Regions from separate parts of the Homo sapiens genome. Here region 1 is linked to region 2. The links come from fine-mapping of genetic effects on gene expression. A gene starts in region 2. The other region holds a variant in brackets. All regions are shown on one strand. Distances are from middle to middle.

Region 1 (8,000 bases), 38 kb before region 2:
AGCCACAGTGGGGCTAAAGATGGGCTCTAGGCTCTGGGTTCTGGGGCTGAGACAGTCGCCAGGAGACCACAGTTCCCCTCACTGTGGGGTGGAGAGGTCAGAATGATCAAGAACCTCCTTCCTTTTGCAAGAATGCCATGGCCCTGGGCTTAGGGTGCAGTGGCCTGGCGGGTGAGGGGCTGATGGGAAACACAGATTCTCTGGGCCATGACAGTGGCTATGGCCCTGTGGCACTGAAGAAGCCCTCCATGACAAAGCTATGACCAGAAAAACGGGGGTTTCATCAGATACGGTGGTCTGATGGCAGAATAACAGCCTTCCCAAGGCATCCACATTCTAATCCCTGGAATCCATAAATATGGTGTGTTCTGTGGCAGGGGACATTAAGGTTGTTAATCAGCTGACCTGAGGTAGGAAGAGCCTCTTGGGTTATCCAGCTGGGCCCCATCAATCATTAGAGATTAATGGCAAATACACAAGAGGGAGGCAGGGGAGTTGGTGCCAGTGATGGGGCGTGAGAAAAACTCAGCTGCTTTGAAGATGGAGGAAGAGGCCATGAGCCCAGGAATGCAGGCGGCTTCTAGAGGCTGGGAAAGGCAAGGAAGGGACTTTCCCATGGGCCTCCAGAAGGAACTCAGCCCTGCTGACACCTTGATGTTAGCTCCGAGAGACCTATTTCTGACTTCTCCAGAACTCTAAGAGAATAAACTGGCATTGTTTTCAGCCTCTAATATGCGGCAAGTTGTTTAGCAGCAGGAGGAACCGACACAGGGCGGCCAGCCCCCACCTGGTGCTGGAGGTACCTGGTGCTGTGAGCTCCTCCTCGTCTTCTGGGCTCAGGAGGACCCCATTTGGGCTCCATTGTGGGGGGTGCTCAGAGCCCCCCACACTTCTGGCCCACCAGCCTTCGGCTCCTAGACAGCAAACACAGACACCCCCCGATCAGTGTGAGGCCCCGGAGGGTGGTCTCCAGGTGCCAGCCCCAGGTGGGGGCCCTGGGGTAGGAGGGAGCCCCAGGAGAAGCTAGAAAGCTCAGGGACCCGGATCTGCTTGGGGGCATGGTCAGACCTGGAAGCCTGCCCTGCCCTTTCAGTGGGGTTTTGAGCTCAGCATGAAGACAGCCTGAAGACCCCCACATGGGGGCCCTGGGACATCAGGGCCATCTCTAATAGTACCAGACTTGACCTCATCTTCAGGTTCTCAGAGAACTTTCTCACCTGTGACCTCATGAACCCTGTCCTTCCAGTGGCCCATGTCATTAACAGCACCTCAGGCAAGGAGGCCACCTGGTTAGGAAGGGGCCCAGCCACGACGGGAGCCCAGGCCTTCTGGTCCCCAGTGCCAGTTCAGTGCCTCCTCCCTCTGGCCACAGCAGTTAACACGGAGCACAGCCCAGCACACAGCGAGTGACCTTAAGGAGGTGCCTCTCCAGGGGGTAGCGGGCAATGAGGCAGAGGCCAAATACCTGGGGCAGCCAAGGGGTAAGAAGGAAGGAACGGAGTGGGGAAAGAGGTCAGAGAAAGGAAGATGTCAACATGAAGAGAAGTTTGCAGACAGGCATTTAGAAGGAACTAGAAGGCCAGGCACAGTGGCTCATGCCTGTAATCCCAGCACTCTGAGAGGCCGAGGTGGGTGGATCATCTGAGGTCAGAAGTTCGAGACCAGCCTGGCCAACATGGCGAAACCCCATCTCTGCTAAAAATACAGAAATTAGCCAGGCATGGTAGCAGCTGCCTATAATCTGAGCTACTCAGGAGGCTGAGGCAGGAGAATCGCCTGAACCCGAGAGGCGGAGGTTGCAGCGAGCTGAGATTGTGCCACTGCACTCCAGCCTGGGTGACAGAGCAAGACTCTGACTCAAAAAAAAAAAAAAAAAAAAAAAAAAATCAGCTGGGTGTGGTGGCTCACACCTATAATCCTAGCGCTCTGGGAGGCCGAGGCAGATGGATCATGAGGTCAAGAGATCAAGACCATCCTGGTCAACATGGCAAACCCCGTCTCTGCTAAAAAAATAAAATAAAAATAAATAAAAATAATAAAAATTTAAAAACTACTTGTTTTCTTTTTTTTTGAGACAGAGTCTCACCCTGTCACTCAGGCTGGAGTGCAGTGGCGCGATCTCGGCTCACTGCAACCTCTGCCTCCCAGGTTCAAGCGATTCTCCTGCCTCAGCCTCCCGAGTAGCTGGGATTACAGGAGCTGGCCACCACGCCTGGCTAATTTTTGTATTTTTAGCAGAGACGGGGTTTCGTCATGTTGGCCAGGCTGGTCTCGAACTCTTGACCTCAGGTGATCCGCTCCCCCCACCCCCACCCCGGCCTCCCAGAGTGCTGGGATTACAGGCGTGAGCCACTGCGCCCAGCCACAGTTTCCATTTCTAAGACAGCAAATATCCATACAAACCACCCACATAAACAAAAGCACTTTGGGGTTCTCAATAATTTTCAAGAGCATAAAGGGATCCAGAGGCCGGGTGCGGTGGCTCACACCTGTAATCCCAGCACTCTGGGAGGCTGAGGAGGGTGGATCAGTTGAGGTCAGGAGTTCAAGACCAGCCTGACCAACATGGTGAAACCCCCGACCTGTACTAAAAATACAAAAATAAGCTGGGCGTGGTGGTGGGTGCCTGCAGTCCCAGCTACACAGGAGGCTGAGGCAGGAAAATCACTTGAACCTGGGAGGCGGAGGTTGCAGAGAGCTGAGATCACGCCATTGCACTCCAGCCTGGGCAACACAGTGAGACTCCGTCTTAAAAAAAAAAAAAAAAAGAGGAATTCAGAGACCAAAAAGTTTTGAGAACTCCTGCGCAAGGGCAACTGTGAGACAAAATGAGATGACACCCCTGAAGGGCCGGCCACACCCAGTGCCTGGCCCAATGTGAGAACAGATCATGACACTGTTCTTAGGGTCTAGAAAATGAGTCCTGCCCAACGCTGACACCCTAGACCCCCGGACCCAGGACCCAGACACGCGGCGCCGGTCCGCGCATCTCTCGGTCCTGCTTTCTGCGCGGCTTCCAGCAGAGGGCGCGCGGCCCTCATGTCTGGGGCCGCCCCAGCGTCGGCCCTGAGGTTCTTCTGTTTCAGCTGATGCCTCGCTCCTTCCTGGGGACAGGCGGAAGGTGCGGGGCGCTCCGTGGGACATCGCTGGGGCCCACGCAGCCTCTGGTTTAATGCAGAGCTCCGAGCTCTGCTGCTTTCCTCTTTAAATATGCGGCTGTGCCACCTGGAGTCAGGGACCACGGTATAGGCCACCACAGCGGTTAAGGGCAAAACAGCTGGGCGCGGACACTCATAATCCCAGCACTTTGGGAAGCCGAGGTGGGCGGGATTGCCTGAGCTCAGGAGTTCTAGACCAGCCTGGGCAACATGGTAAGACCCCGTCTGTACAAAAAAAAAAAAAAAAAAAAAAAAAATACAAAAATTAGCTCGGCATGGTGGTGCACGCCTGTAGTCCCAGCATTTTGGGAGGCGGAGGTGGGCAGACTACTTGAGCCCAGGAGATTGAGACCAGCCTGGGTCTAAAGACATGGCAAAACCCTGTCTTTAGAAAAAAATATAAAAATTAGCCGGGCACGGTGGTGCACACCTGTGGTCCTAGCTACTCAGGAGGCTGAGGTGGGAGGATCACGTGAGCCCAGGGAGGTGGTGGCTGCAGTGAGCTGTGCTGTGCAATCTTGCACCACTGCACTTCAGCCTTGGTGACTCAGCAAGACCCTGTGTCCAAAAAAAAAAAAAAAAAAAAAAAAAAAAAGGAGCAAAACTCAGGAGCTGACAAATGCAGTGCTCACAACTGTTATGTGGCCTCAGGCAAGTGGCCTACCTTTTGTAGGTCTCAGTTACTTCATCATTGAAAGGGGAATGAGAATCCTTGCATGTTAGGTGCTCAGCACAGTGCCTGGCAAACAGCAGGTGCTCAATAAGTGGAGGCCAGGAGACTGAGCCTGAATCCCCAGTGTTTAGACACACCAAGGGAGGCCAGTCTCAACGGGGTGAGTGGGAAATTCCCCTACAGGATCCAAAAAGCGTCACGTACCCGGCCCCCAACCCCACCACGGGTATAAAGAGAAGAGTCAGGGACTGGGGAGGGAGCTGGGGGTCGCAGGTGGGCACTGGGGAGCCATCATCTCACCCCCGACCCCACCTAGGCTGTGCAGGCCTGTGGCTCCTCTCCACAATGGGAGATCCACTAATGCAAGATCTCCCCAGGGCAGGATCACCTGCCTAGGCTGGGAGCAGACCCTTGGGAGGCGTTTGCAGGGAGCATCTCTTACCCTGGTGGAAATCGCTGAGGATGTGATGCACCTGGAACTGGGCAGTGGACGCGCACACCTTGGAGTGGCCATAGCAGAAACAGCTGCTGCAGCCAGCTGGATTGTGGGGCTGCAGGTTAAAGGTCCCCGGGCGACATCTGAAATGGAGGCAGGACATGCCCACGAGGGCCACGTGAATCAGCCAGGAAGGGGCGGGGCCAGGGTATCCCAGCTGGACCAATGAGAGTCTAGAATCACTGCAGAAACTTAAAAACAATTTTTTTT[C/TC]AGAATTCTAGAAGAGTAGTAAGAACATTACAGATTGTTCCCATACCTGCTTCAGACAGCCTCCCCTGATGCTGACATCTGACATTACCACAGTACATTTGTCAAAACTAAGTTAACTAAACTCCAGACTTTATTAGGTTTTGTTTTTTTGTTGTTGTTGTTTTTTTTTTTTTTTGAGACAGAGTCTTGTTCTGTGGCCCAGGCTGGAGTGCAATGGTGCAATCTTGGCTCACTGCAGCCTCCGCCTCCCGGGTTCAAGTGATTCTCCTGCCTCAGCCTCCCGGGTAGCTGGGATTGCAGGCGCCTGCCACCACACCCGGCTAATTTTTGTATTTTTAGTAGAAACGGGATTTCACCATGTTGGCAGGTTGACCTCGAACTCCTGACCTCAGGGGATCCGCCCGCCTCAGCCTCCCAAAGTACTGGGATTTCAGGCTTGAGCCACCGCGCCCAGCGACTTTAATAGGATTTCTCCACTTTTTCCTCTAATGTCTGGTTTCTGCTGCAGGATCCCATCCAGGACACGGTGTTGCATTTAGTGGTATCCTTGTTCTCCTCCAACCTATCACCGCTTCTCAGTCTTTCCTTGTCTGCCACTATCTTGACACTTTTTGAAAAGCACTGATCAGGTATTTTTAGAATGTCTGATGTTTCTCATGATTAGACCAGAGTTATAGGCTTGGGAAAGAAATACACAGAGGTGAAGTACCCTTCTCGTCATATCACATGGGGGCACAGGAAACCCACATGACATCCAAGCGATGCTGACTTTCATCACCTGTGCTGTCTACCAGTCTCTCCACTGTGCAATCACCACGGTCCAGTCATTAGAAGCAAGTCACTGAATAGGCCGGACGCGGTGGCTCAAGCACTTTAAATTTTTTTTTGAGACGAAGTCTCGCTCTGTTGCCCAAGCTGGAGTGCAGTGGCACGATTTCAGCTCACTGTAACCTCTGTCTCCCGGGTTCAAACAATTGTCCTGCCTCAGCCTCCCAAGTAGCTGGGACTACAGGTGTGCGCCACCATGCCCGGCTAATTTTTGTATTTTTAGTAGAGACAGGGTTTCACTATGTTGGCCAGGCTGGTCTTGAACTCCTGACCTCGTGATCCATCCACCTCGGCCTCCCAAAGTGCTGGGATTACAGGCATGAGCCACCGCGCCTGGCCGGCTCACGCACTTTGGGAGGCCGAGGTGGGTGGATCACCTGAGGTCAGTTCGAGATCAGCCTGACCAACATGGTGAAACCCCATCTCTACTAAAAATACAAAAATTAGCCAGGCGTGGTGGTGGGTGCCTATAATCCTAGCTACTTAGGAGGCTGAGGCAGGAGAATCGCTTGAACCCGGGAGACAGAGGTTGCAGTGAGCCGAGATCATACCACTTCACTCCAGCCTGAGCAAAAGAGCGAAACTCCGTCTCAAAAAAAAAAAAAAAAGCAGCAAGTCACTAAATGCAGCCCAGTCTCAAAAAGAGGGGGATTAAGCTCGACCTCCTAGAGGAAGAGTATCAAAGAACCCACGGACAGATGTTAAAGCCACCCCAGTAATTAATAGATATTTTGAGGTTATGCAAATATCCTCTCTTTCCTTAAAGTTCTGCCCACCAATGTCAGCATTCATCGGCAGCTCTTGCCTGTAGCAATTACCACTGTGAGGTCTGAACAGTGGTTTTCCAGTTCCTTCATTTCTACATTCATTACTTGGAATTCTTCTGCAAGGAAGGTTTGTCTCTTCATGCCCATCTATTTATGTATTCAATCATCTATTTACATCAGTATGGATTCGTGGATTTGACTTTATTCTCTGGGTTATAATCCAATACTATCGTTTATTTTGTTGCTCAAATTGTTTCAGCCCTGAGAGCTCTTTCACGTCGGCTCCTGTGTCCTTTTGACATGGGCCCACGTTCTGGTTTGGGCTGTTTTGTTTGTGTCTGTCTCTGTTTTTCAGCATTTCCTTGCTTCCTGGCACTGTAAGACGCCTTGGGCTTATCTTGTCTTTTTCCAGCCCCAGCCCCAGAATCTGCCACTTCTCCAAGCAGCTCTGGTGAATGTCAGACACAAAGCCAGGAAGAAGAGATAGTGTGTACCCAAGGAGCTAAACCCATGTTTGTCTGCTGGCCGCACTGCTGGAGCTTGGAGGCCTCTTGAACACTTGAAAGAGGAAGTTTATGTACTTCCTGGCCTTGGGAGAGCCCCTTTGACTTGCAGAGCTTCAGATGCCCCATTTGTACCATGATCAGACTGCAAAGATGGCAAACAGGCTCAAAATCCAGCTCAGTGGGTAGGGGCTTCCTGAAGCAGGGTGTTAAGAAGGATCCTGAGGTTATAGTAGGGCTCATGGCCAAGACTGCTGTGCCCCATTAGTGATGTCTGTTGTGGGTGTGAAAGGGGAGGGTTGTGATAGTGTTGCCTTAGTGATGTCTGCCATGGGTATGCCATCAGTGATGTCTGCCATGGTGTGAAAGGGGAGAGTTGATGGTGCTCCATTAGTGATGTCTGCTGTGGGTATGAAAGGGGAGGGTTGTGATAGTGCTCCCTTAGTGATGTCTGCCATGGGTATGCCATTAGTGATGTCTGTTGTGGGTGTGAAAGGGGTGTGTTGACAGTGCTCCATGAATGATGTCTGCTATGGGTGTGAAAAAGAAGGGTTGTAGTAGTGCTTCATTAGTGATGCCTGCCATGGCTATGAAAGGGAAAGTTTGATATGGCACCATTAGTGATGTCTGCCATGGCTGTGAAAGGCAAGGGTTGATAGTGCTCCATTAGTGATGCCTGCTGTGGGTATGAAAGGGGGAGGCTGTGATAGTTCTCCATTAGTGATGTTTGCCATGGTTATACCATTAGTGATGTCTGCTGTGGGTGTGAAAGGGGTGCATTGACAATGCTCCATGAGTGATGTTGGCCGTGAGTGTGAAAAGGGAGGGTTGTGATAGTGCTCCATTAGTGATATCTGCTGTGGGTAAGAAAGGGGAAGACTGTGATAGTGCTCCCTTAGTGATGTGTACCATGGGTATACCATTAGTGATGTCTGCTGTGGGTGTGAAAGGGGTGTATTGACAGTGCTGCATGAGTAATGTCTATTGAGTGTGAAAAGGGAGGGCTGTGATAGGTCTGCCGTGGGTGTGAAAGGGTTGTGATAGTGCTCCGTTAGTGGTGTCTGTCATGGGTGTGAAAGGGGAGCGTTGATAATACTCCATGAGTGATGTCTGCTGTGGGTGTGAAACGGGAGGCCTGTGATAGTGCTCCATTAGCTATGTCTGCAGTGAGTGTGAAACGGGAGGCCTGTGATAGTGCTCCATTAGCGATGTCTGCCACAGCAGGTGGTAGTACGAGCACCATCTATTTACTATCCCTGGATTAGATGGTCTCTCCTATCATTCCAGTTCTTTCTTTTCAGGATTCTAAGCTAAGACATGTATTTTCTCAGCTTATGAATGATCAGTGGTGTTGAATCAAAGCAC
Region 2 (11,372 bases):
GGGCCCAGCGTTCCAGCCAGAACCCCCAGGGAGCAGGAGGGAGGACTTGGCCCCCAGCACTGGCCCAGGCCAAGGCAATCGCAGCCGCCCACTCGACAGGAAGACAGAACGGAGCCAAGGCTCAGGAGACCCAGCTGGCTCCAGGACCCCTCAGGGGCCACAGGGTCCCCCTAATGTCCAGCACCCTGGGACCCGGCTCCTCGCTGTGGCTGGCCAGACCCCAGCGTCTTCTCGGTGTCTGCACTCAGGCCATCCAGGCCCGGCAGGTCGAAGAACATCCTTCCCTCTTTGGTCAGCTCCTACCATCCTTCAGGTCTCAGCGAGACCCTTCCTGACCCTAGAGATGAGGCTCGTGCGCACCAGTGCATGTTCTGAGCATACATCCTCGTTCTCAGCACTGCTCAGTAAAGGCTGCCTTCTGGTGGGCCCTGAGCCCCTCAGGACAGGGGCCGCACATGGCCCTGTTCACAGCTGCATCCTGTGGCCAGTGAGCCAAGGCTGGGTGACCACCAAGCAAACGGCTAAATGAAAGCAAGAAGAAGTCAACTCCATGCAGGGACATCCGGGACCTGCGGGGGAGGGAGGGCAGAACTCATCTGCTTGGGGGACTCAGGTCTTTTTGTGGTTCCAGGAGATTCTCAGCGATCCAAGTGCAAGCCGGGAGGAGACTCCCCCAGCCCACCGAAAGCCACAGCCCATACTGTTCCTCCCAGGACCGAGGCTTCAAGCATGTGGACCAGCCTAGCCTGGACCCTCTTCATTCCCAAGTACAGCAGTTAGGGGGAGGGTCCCGGGGGCCACCATTTATTGAGTTGTGCGACCCCAAGCAACTGATCTCACCCTCAGTGCCTCAGTTTTGCTGTCTGTAAAAGAACAAAGCATGCCGGTTTGGGATGCCGCCTGGGCGAGTCCTTGGTACACGGTGAGAGCCCCGGAATGGTCTGTACCCCCGTCACTGTCCACTCCCCCAACACCCCACTGACTCCCAGGCCCCAGCCCCGTGGCCTCCCTGGGCCTTGGTGGTGGGCTGGGGCTGCCAGAGCCCACTGCTGCCTTTCATCCCAGACAGGAAGGCTCAGCTCAGAGATGACGGGAGGATCCGGAACAGATGTCCAGGAGCCACGGGGGGCTGGGAATGCGGCGACCTCCATCTCCTTCCCTGCCCCTCACCCCATTCCCTCTAGGAGACCCCGGGCCAGAGCTGGCCGCCCACTCTCCCTTCCCATGAGCCTTCAAGGAGAGGGAGCAGTGGGGGGACAGAGCCAGCAGAGGTGGCCTAAGGACCAGGAGGAGAGGTCATCAGACGGCCTCCACAGGGGACACCGACAATCCCAGGCCTCTCCTTCCCCCGCTATTATGCAAGCCATGGCTTAGCCTGGAGCAAACCTAAGTCATAGGAAACCAAAAAGAGGCCAAATCTGGGGCTGCGCTGGGCCCCCGGCGCCCCTTGTGCGTAAACAGAGACCAGCGTCAGGATGTCTTTGAGGAGGCAGGGCGGCCGGGACGAGCATTTCTCAATCCCCGCAAGGGAGCCTCAGCCCTGAGCTGTCTCAGCAGCCACGCTGGTCACACACAGGGACTGCCATGGCTCCGACCCGGGCTCATGAACCCGAACAGCTGCTCAGGAAGTGGCGACTCTTATCCGTACGGTACAGGTAAGGAAACTGAGGCTGAGAGAGGGGACTCCGCTTGCCCAGTGAGTGGCTCTGCTGGGCCTAAGTCCAAAGCCTCCTTTCGTGATTTCTATCCTATTCTGCCTCCCAGAGCAGGCAAAAGAGAATGCTGAGCTGGCCCCAGAGCACAGGACAGAGGAGGTGACCCTGTCACTCACACTTGTGGACTCTCTCCTATATGCCTGGTTTTCGGCGACAAAACAGGAAGAATGCTCACCGGGATAAGACACAGCAGGGAGTGTGTGTGTGTGTGTGTGTGTGTGTGTGTATGTGTGTGTGTGTTCGCTCTCTACATTCACAGTGTGGAGGCTCTCAGGTTCCTTGCTTTTAGAAGGATCAGAACCACTCTGCTTCTAAGGTTCTAGGCAGAGTTCCACGAGGGTGCACAGCTCAGCACAGGGCCTGGCACACAGTAGATGCACAGTAAACAGGAACTACCTCAAATCCAAAAACTTGGCCATTTCTCCCAACTTCCTCCCACCTTGTTTGTGCCTGGGCTGAGCTCTTTCCTTGGCCCCTGGGTTCCCAGGACACATGTGATACCCTTTGTCATGGAGCACTGTGTCTCCCCAACAACTCCCCACCCTGTCCCAGATTCCTTCCCCTGTGGCCTTGGGGTCCTGCCAGCTCCATCCAGACAGCTCCCCCAGCCTCCCCCCTCCCCACTGGCTTCCTGTCCCCTCCCCCTCGTCCCATTCAGAAGCCCCACCTAGTGATCCAGATAGGCTGAGAGAAGGTGACGTGGCCCCAGAAGAAGGGAGTTTCTGAGGTGGCAGCCAGTACCTGTGTGCTCTGCAGAGCGGGCTCACGGTCCTCCCCGCACCCCACTCCAATGTCACTTCCCAGCCCTCCCCAGGACACTGTCACCAGGCTGAGGTGGAGCTGACTCAGTTGATGGGTGGCGGAACTCACATCAAAGAGTTTATGCTCTGACCTCTGATGTCCATGGATGTCCACGCTCAGATGCTCACTTAGCAGCTCTGTGCCTTTGGGCAAAACAACCTCTCTGAGCCTCAATTTTCTCAGCTGAAACATGGGATACAGTCCCATCATCCCTAATCCAAACTCCTAGGCTCCAAATGTGTTTGGGAATTGAACATTTTTCAGCTTTTAGAAAGACGATGCAGGCCTTATACCATATATTGTGCTAATACCCCCAGTGGGGTCTGGGGCTGCCGGCTGTACTCAAATGAGATTTCAGTAGCAAAGCGAATGAATATTCATTCTCACTAGCATAAACATAGCTTATAAATAGCCTCAGGTCAGGTTTAGCAGCAAAAATGAGTTATAAAAATAATTTGAGTTTTCAAAGCTTTGGGAGGCTGACCTCGAAGATAAGGGAGTCTAACCAGTGATACCAGCCCCTCCTGAAAGGGCAGTGGAGGCTGCAACAGGAAAGACACTTGGCGCTTACCCGGCCACAGAGGACATGGGAATCGGGCTGAACACGGAGGGAGGAGAGAGCATTCCAGCTCCCTGCAGTGGGGGCAGGGGCTGAGAACCGGGGCTGGGTCCAGACTCCAGATTCTGATTCCTGGAGATCTAAGGGCTTCTGCACCTCGGCAAGTCATGAGCAGGGCAGAGAGGCCATGCCACCGGGCGCAGCTGCCCAGCAGCACGAAGAAACTTAGTCCTCCTCCCCAGAGGGTTAAACTTTGCCTGTGCAGTGATGAACATCACAGCTTCTATCTTCCAGAACCCACCCGAGGACTGCAGGCAGCTTCAGGGGTCCACTGAATACCTGAAGTTGACCAGAAGACCCAAGATCAGGAGCCCCTGCCCTAGAGGGTGACCAATTCAGTCCTTGGTGTGTCACCTCCCCAACAGTTCTGGTCTAGGATGGAAAACCATTACAGGGGATTATAATTGCAACCTAGAACCAAAGCTCAGCAAGTGACTCCCTGCCTCTCCCGCCCCACGGGGCACCCCTCAGTCTATCCTTCTGGCTATCTAGGGGTACAGGTCCTGTTTTTTTTTCTTCTTTTTTTCATTCTTTCTTTTTATTAAGAGATAAGGTCTCACTCTGTAGCCCAGGCTGTAGCACAGTGGCACTATCATATTTCATGCAGCCTCAACCTCTCAGTCTTAAGTGATCCTCCTGCCTCAGCCTCTTGAGTAGCTGGGACCATAGGTGTGCACCACCACGCCCAGCTTTTTTTTTTTTTTTTTTTTTTTTTTGAGACGGAGTTAGCTCTGTTGCCCAGGCTGGAGAACGGTGGTGCGACCTCGGCTCACGGCAACCTCCACCTCCCGGGTTCAAGCGATTCTCCTGCCCCAGCCTCCTGAGTAGCTGGAACTACAGGCACCTACCACCACGCCCGGCCAAATTTTCTATTTTTAGTAGAGACGGGTTTTCACCATGTTGGCCAGGCTGGTCTCGAACTCCTGACCTCAGGTGATCCGCCCGCCTCGGCCTCCCAAAGTGCTGGGATTACAGACGTCAGCCACCGCGCCCGGCCTATTTTTCTTTATTTTTTGTAAAGATGGGATCTCACTACGTTGCCCAGGCTGATCTTGAACTCCTGGGCTCAAGCGACCCTCCCATCTCGGCCTCCCAAAGTGCTGGGATTTCAGGAGTGAGCCACCGCACCCAGCCTAATTCCTATTTCTGAGCCCCTCCATCCAACACCATATCTGGGTCCTGCAGCCCAACCTGGGCGCACAGCAGCTCAGGCCTCAGCCTCAGACCCCCAGTGGAGTGGGGACACGGGGTGCGGTGGCGGTGCCCCCAGCCCGCGCTTACCTAGGCGGAGGGTGATGTTGACCGAGGTGGGGTACTGCACGCCGAAGGCCATGGACGGGCTCTGCCACCAGGTGCTCTCGTCCTGGCTGTGGAAGTCGGTGAGGTAGGAGGCGTTGTGGTGGCGCTGGGGGTCGGCGGCGTCGCAGCGCTGGCAATGAGCCCCCGCGCCCGCGGCGCCCACGTGGGGACAGAAGTCCTCGGGCGGGCTGCCGCACGTGTGCGAGGCCTGGGCGAGCCGCCCAAACGCCGCGTTCTCGAACACCGGCAGGCAGCGCTGCGGGCGCCCTGCGCCGTCATAGCACGCGCCCATGCCCGCGCCGGCCGCCCGCGGTGCCAGCAGCGCCAGCCCCAGCAGAAGCGCAGCCGCCGCCATGGTCAAGGGCACCGACGCCGCGCGCTCTGCCGGCCCCGCTCGGCTAGGGTGGGCGCGGACCGCGCGCTGGCCGCCAGGACCCGCCTTCCCCTGCGGGGCGGGGAGGCTGGAGGGAGGGGCGGGCGGCGGCGGCCCCACCCCACTAAAAATACCAGGGACCGCGCCGTCCCCGGGCGCCCACTCCCACCTGCTGGACGTGCCCGGCAGTGCGCGGCTCGGGAGTCTGCCCCAGAGGCGACCCGGGCCTCTTTGAGCCTCAGTTTCCTCGTCTGTGGAGTGGGGTCGGTAAAGATGCAGGCTCATTCTCGCCATTGGGAGGCTTCAATGGCTGCTCATTAAACAGAAACTGTTCAGCAGTGCCTTGGAGTCCTGAGATAAAAGGGGACAAGAGGATCTATCTCTAACTGATCGCTACCGTTTGCGCATCTCCTCCTAGCAATAAAGTGTGCCCTGGACAGGGTTGTGAGATGGCTCCGCATAGCTCCTGTCGCCCTTAACCCTGAAAAGCACTCCTGCTGCCGGCTGCGCTCTGTCCCCACAGCAAAGAGATTCTAACCTGACATTTGTGACAAGGGTACCTGGTCTTATCACAAATGTCACCTCAGAGAGGGCTTCCTTGTCTTCTGCCCCAACCCCCATAAATGCCCCCTTTACTCCCCATTTATTAACATTAGCAAATCGAGGGAGAGAAGTCATTCGATAAAATTTAGCAGCCAGGTCGTGCGCGGTGGCTCACGCCTGTAATCCTAGCACTTTGGGAGGTGGAGGCGGAAGGATAACTTGAGGCCAGGAGTTCGAGACCAACCTGGGCAAAATAGTGAGACCCTATCTCTACAAAAAAATACAAAAATTAGCCCGGCGTCATGGCACAAGCCTGTAGTCCCAGCTACCTGGGAGGCTGAGGTGGAAGGATCCCTTGAGCCCGGGAGGTTAGGCTGCAGTGGGCTGTGATCATGCCATTGCACTCCAGCCTGGCCAACAGAGTCAGACCCTGTCTCGAAAAAAAAAAAAAAAAAAAGGCAGCCATTCCCAGACGAACTCTAAGGAAAATAGAAATAAATTTCCTGGCCTGGCGCGGTGGCTCTCGCCTATAATCCCAGCATTTTGGGAAGTTGAGGAAGGCAGATCACCTGAGGTCAGGAGTTCGAGACCAGCCTGGCCAACATAGTGAAACCCCGTCTCTACTAAAAACACAAAAATTAGCTGGGTGTGGCGGTGCGTGCCTGTAATCCCAGCTACTCAGGAGGCTGAGGCAGGAGAATTGTTTGAACCCGGGGGGCAGAAGTTGCAGTGAACTGAGATCATGCCATTGCACTCCAGCCTGGGCAACAAGAGAGAAACTCCATCAAAAAAAAAAAAAAGAAAGAAAAGAAAGAAAGAAAATTTTTGGAAGCAAGATGAACTGTAGTGGGCTGATTCACTACCAGTTATTTACACATGATTAAAACAATACGGTTGTGGAAAGGACTACAGAATAGACCCATGGAATAAGTTAGAGATTTCAGAACTATATCTAAGTAGAGTTAGTATATGATATCACCACTGGTACCTAAGGTTATTTTGGAAGTTCTAGCTAATACAATAAGACAAAAAACTTAAAAGATATAAATATTTATATCTTCTACTTACCTGAACATACATCTAGAAAATCTAAAAGATTCTACTAAGACTATTAAAATTAATAAGAGCTCCGTAAGATGGCTGACTACAGGATAGAGTACGAAAACCAATGCCAGCAATAGGCATTTTCTGGCTGGGTGCGGTGGCTCACGCCTGTAATCCCAGCACTTTGGGAGGCTGAGGCAGGCAGATCACCTGAGGTCATGAGTTCGAGACCAGCCTGGGCAATATGGTGAAACCCCATCTCCACTAAAAATACAAAAATTAGCCAGGCATTGTGGCACACCTGTAATCCCAGCTACTTGGAAGGCTGAGGCACAAGAATCGCTTGAATTCAGGAGACAGAGGTTGCAGTGAGCCGAGGTCACGCAAATGCACTCCAGCCTATGCAATAGAGCAAGACCCTGTTTTTTAAAAAACAAAACAAAAACAAAACAAAACAAACAAAAAACTGATGCCAGCAATGATGTAGGAAATGGTAGAACACCTAATAATAAATCTGGTATGAAATGTGCAAGATATAAATGAATCAAATTATAAAATGCTACTGAGAGACAGAAAACCTGAAGAGACCAGCATCTATATTCACGGATTTCCAACTGTTTAAATATACAAATTCTCCCCAAGTTAAAATATCATTTAATGTAATTCCAAATTGTTTTTTTGATGGTGTTATGGAAGCTTCTTTGTTAAAGTTTTCTCTTATGGTCAAGAACATGATTGCAGCAGACTCTTGATGGTCCACGCAGCTACCCTGAGCTGGGCTGTGCACCCATCCAAAGCAAATTCATCTATCAGGCACAGGAAACATGGCAGCCCACAGGAATTCTAGGAACCCACAAAAACTGTTCTAATATCTTTAAAGTCAGAAGAAAAAAAAGAACTTTTAGGCTGAAGAACATGTTTTAACGTATGATATTAATATACCCGTCTTTAGATCAATGCAATGGTTAAATATAATTTTTAAAAATGTTAGTGCCAGGCACGGTGGCTCATACCTGTGATCCCAGCACATTGGGAGGCTAAGGCGGGTAGATCGCTGGAGCTCAGGAGTTTGAGGCCAGGCTGGGCAACATGGTGAGACCTCGTCTCTACTAAAAATACAAAAAATTACCCGGGCATGGTGGCATACACCTGTGGTCCCAGCTGCTTGGGAGGCTGAGGTGGGAGAATTGCTTGAGCCCAGGGGGCGAAGGTTGCAGTGAGCCAAGATCACGCCACTGCACTCCAGCCTGGGTGACAGAGGGAGGCCCTGTCTCAAAAAAAAAAAAAAAAATTATAATTGTGGTAAAATACATATAACATATTTATAAAATTTACGATCTTAACCACTTTTAAGTTACAATTAAATAATATTAAGCACATTCACATTGTTGTGCAACCATCACCACCATCCATCTCCAGACCTTTTTTTTTTTTTTTTTGAGATGGAGTCTTGCTCTGTCACCTAAGCTAGAGTGCAGTGGCGCCATCTTGGCTCACTGCAACCTCTGCCTCCCAGGTTCAGGCAATTCTCCTGCCTCAGCCTCCCTGGTAGCTGGGATTACAGGCACCTGCCACCATGCCCAGCTAATTTTTTTATTTTAGAGACTGGGTTTCACTATGTTGGCCAGGCTGGTCTCGAACTCCTGACCTCAAGTGATCCTCCTGCCTCAGCCTCCCAAAGTGCTGAGATTACAGACGTGGGCCACTGCACACGGCCTCCAGAACTTTTTATCTTGCAAAACTGAAACTCTGTCCTCTTAAACAATAACTCTCTATAACCTTCTCCCCTCGGTAAAATAGAATTTTTAATATTTTTTAATAAATAAAGGAGCCCGCTAAGGCAAAACTGCCCAGGGTCCAGGAAAGTCATAAAGTGTCCATGATAATGTTAGAAATGCTTGTTCCTCGGTGCCATAAAGAAATACCACTTGAACATAAATTTAATTTCTTCAGCAAGGCTATTTTTACTTTGTGCAGAAAGGGTACACTCGCCAGCAGTTTTGCCACTAGAGTACACTGAACAAAGGAGACAGGGTCATTTATAACCTGACACGTCTACTTTACTGCTGTGTCCAGTTTCCATTGGCTGGAACGGGACTTCACATTCTGTATTTGTCCTGATTGGCTAGCAACTTAGAACTTTTTAAAAGAGGCAAAGGTGGAGGAGAACAAAGGAAGGAGGAAGAAATTTGTGGAGTGCTGAGAAAGGTAAAAACACTTCTAAGTAAGGAAGAGGAATAGGTTATGACCTAATGCCTGCTTGGACCAGTATAAGCATGCCAGGGCAAATATTTAGGCTAAATTGTGGGAGCTAAGAACATAAAGTACATTGATTTCTTTATTACGGCTAGCAGATATTTAAGAATGTTAGCACAGGTCTTTGAATAAATTTTGCTTCTGAGAGAAGTTACCATTTATTCTTAATTAGATGGGGAGGAGAGTCTCTTTGAAGAGGAACCTCTACTTTACTTTTTACAGTAACACCCGGCTGGTATCACTACAGCTAGGTGAAGTATTTGTAGTTCGCAGCATGCAGTAACAGTACAAGCAATAAGACTTTCACCTACAGTGAACTTGACCAAGGTACAGGTGGAAGGAGACGATGGTTCATCCAATCTCTGGTGCTTGAGAGTAGGGAATAGTGATTATAGAGACTGTGGGATTGGGTGGCCCTTGCTGAATGTCACTGATACCTTGAAGAGGGAAAATGACCAGGTCAGGGTGATCTTGGACCAATCCAAAACAAATTTAGAAAGCCAGAGGCCCTTGTTGGCAACAATTAGAAAAAAAAAAAAAAAGACCTGGTGGGGCATGGTGGCTCACGCCTGTAATCCCAGCACTTTGGGAGGCCCAGTCAGGTGGATCACTTGAGATCAGGAGTTTGAGACCGGCTTGGCCAACATATGAATCCCTGTCTCTAACTAAAAATATAATAATTAGCCGGGCCTGGCGCTTGCACCTATAGTTTCAGCTACTCCAGAGGCTGAGGCACTAGAATCACTTGAACCCGGGAGGCAGAGGCTGCCGTGAGCCAAGATGGCGCCACTGTACTCCCGCCTGGGTGACACAGTGAGACTCCATCTCAAAAAACAAACAAACGAACAAACAAACAAACCACACGGGGCAGACCGAGCTGAAAACTAGGCTCAGGATCTGATTGTAAGTTGCACTGGACTCCAGAGGAGATTGATTTCCCATCCCTGGAAAGCATCCTGAATCACAATCAGGGTCCGGATAGGGAAGAAGTGGGACCTTGAGACTTAGGGTGGGTATCTGGACAGATTCACTGAGAACCCTGAATCTCTAGATTCCTTTAACACTCTGGGCCTGAAGAAGGGATCCACTCCGCTTTTCTAGAAGATAGTGCCCACCACCCCACCACTGCTTGAAGAGTTTGCAGGAGCCTCAAATGAGGCAGGTGTCTATAAGGCCATCCTCGCCCTTCTCCTATAAGATGGTCCTTGCCCACCTCCCCTCTTGGCCAGAGGTCCAGCAACTAGGGAAAAGTCCAGCATGGCCTGACTGGGGAAGTTCTGAGCCTGCTAAGGATGCAGCAGGATTATCCCCCAAAGAAGTTTGCAGGGATTGGCTAATAGTGCTAACTTTATATATATAGTCATATGCTACATAATGACATTTTGTTCAGTGATGGACCACCTAAGATTACAATGGAGCTGAAAAATTCCTATTGTCCAGTGATGTCATAGCCATCATAATATCGTAGCACGAATACCTTATATTTTTAAATAAATTTAATGTAGCTTAAGTGTACAATGTTCATAAAGTCTACAGTAGTGTACAGTAACATCCTAGGCCTTCACATTCGCTCACCACTCGCTCACTGACTCCCCAGAGCAACTTCCAGTCCTGCAAGCTCCATTTATGGTAAGTGCCCTATATGGGTATACCATTTTTAATCTTTTATAGCATATACATATTTTTTTGAGATAGAGTCTCACTCTGTTGCCCAGGCTGGAGTGCAGTGGCATGATCTCGGCTCACTGCAGCCTCTGCCTCCCAGGTTCAAGTGATTCTCCCACCTTAGCCTCCTGAGTAGCTGGGACTAAAGGCGCCATCACATCCAGCTAAATTGTGTATTTTTGGTAGAGATGGAGTTTCCTTTTTTTGAGACAGAGTCTTGCTCTGTCGCCCAGGCTGGAGTGCAGTGGCACGATCTCGGCTCACTGCAAGCTCCACCTCCTGGGTTCATGCCGTTCTCCTGCCTCAGCCTCCCGAGTAGCTGGGACTACAGGCGCCCGCCACCACGCCCGGCTAACTTTTTGTATTTTTTTTTTTAGTAGAGACGGGGTTTCATCGTGTTAGCCAGGATGGTCTCGATCTCCTGACCTTGTGATCTGCCCACCTCGGCCTCCCAAAGTGCTGGGATTACAGGCGTAAGCCACCGTGCCCGGCCGAGATGGGGTTTCACTGTGTTGGCCAGGCTGGTCTCAAACTCCTGACCTCAAGTGATCCACTCACTTGAGCCTCCCAAAGCGCTGGGATTACAGGTGTGAGCTACCATGCCCAGCCCACATATTTTTACTGTAGCTTTTCTATATTTAGAGGCACAAATACTTATCATTGTGCTAAAATTGCCTGCAGTATTCAGCACAGTGCCATTCTGTAGAGGTTTGTAGCCTAGGAACAATAGACTACACCATATAGCCTAGGTATGCAGTAGGCTGTACCATCTAGGTTTGTGTATGTTCTCTGATGTTCACACAATGACAGAATCACTTGCCGACACATTTCTTAGAATACATCCCCATCATCAAATGATGTGTGGCTATGTTTACATATATATAGAGAGAGAGAAAGAGAGAGAGAGAAAAAGAGAATATATACGTGTGTGTGTATATATATATGTATATATGGGGAGAGAAGAATTAATTAATAACTTAAAATAAATTGAGGGAGGGCCAGGCGTTGTGGCTCACACCTGTAATCCCAGCACTTTGGGAGGCCGAAGCAGGTGGAT

The links.
Region 1: its variant is fine-mapped to the expression of LAMC3 in whole blood (TOPMed, PIP above 0.99). The same link has a PIP of 0.9 or more in blood mononuclear cells.

Annotation. Positions count from the first base shown.
Region 1 is chr9:131,041,934-131,049,933 of GRCh38, reverse strand. LAMC3 (laminin subunit gamma 3) reads right to left here. Exons shown (of 28, transcript NM_006059.4): 8 at 4,274-4,410; 9 at 804-914. Among named protein-coding and RNA genes, the nearest start is that of LAMC3, 37 kb to the right of the region's middle. The variant C/TC (reference allele first, on the strand shown) is at 4,538.
Region 2 is chr9:131,002,632-131,014,003 of GRCh38, reverse strand. It overlaps LAMC3 (laminin subunit gamma 3), which reads right to left and starts at 4,830. Exons shown (of 28, transcript NM_006059.4): 1 at 4,417-4,830. The coding sequence starts at 4,789. RefSeq lists enhancers at 67-634, 635-1,202, 1,203-1,771.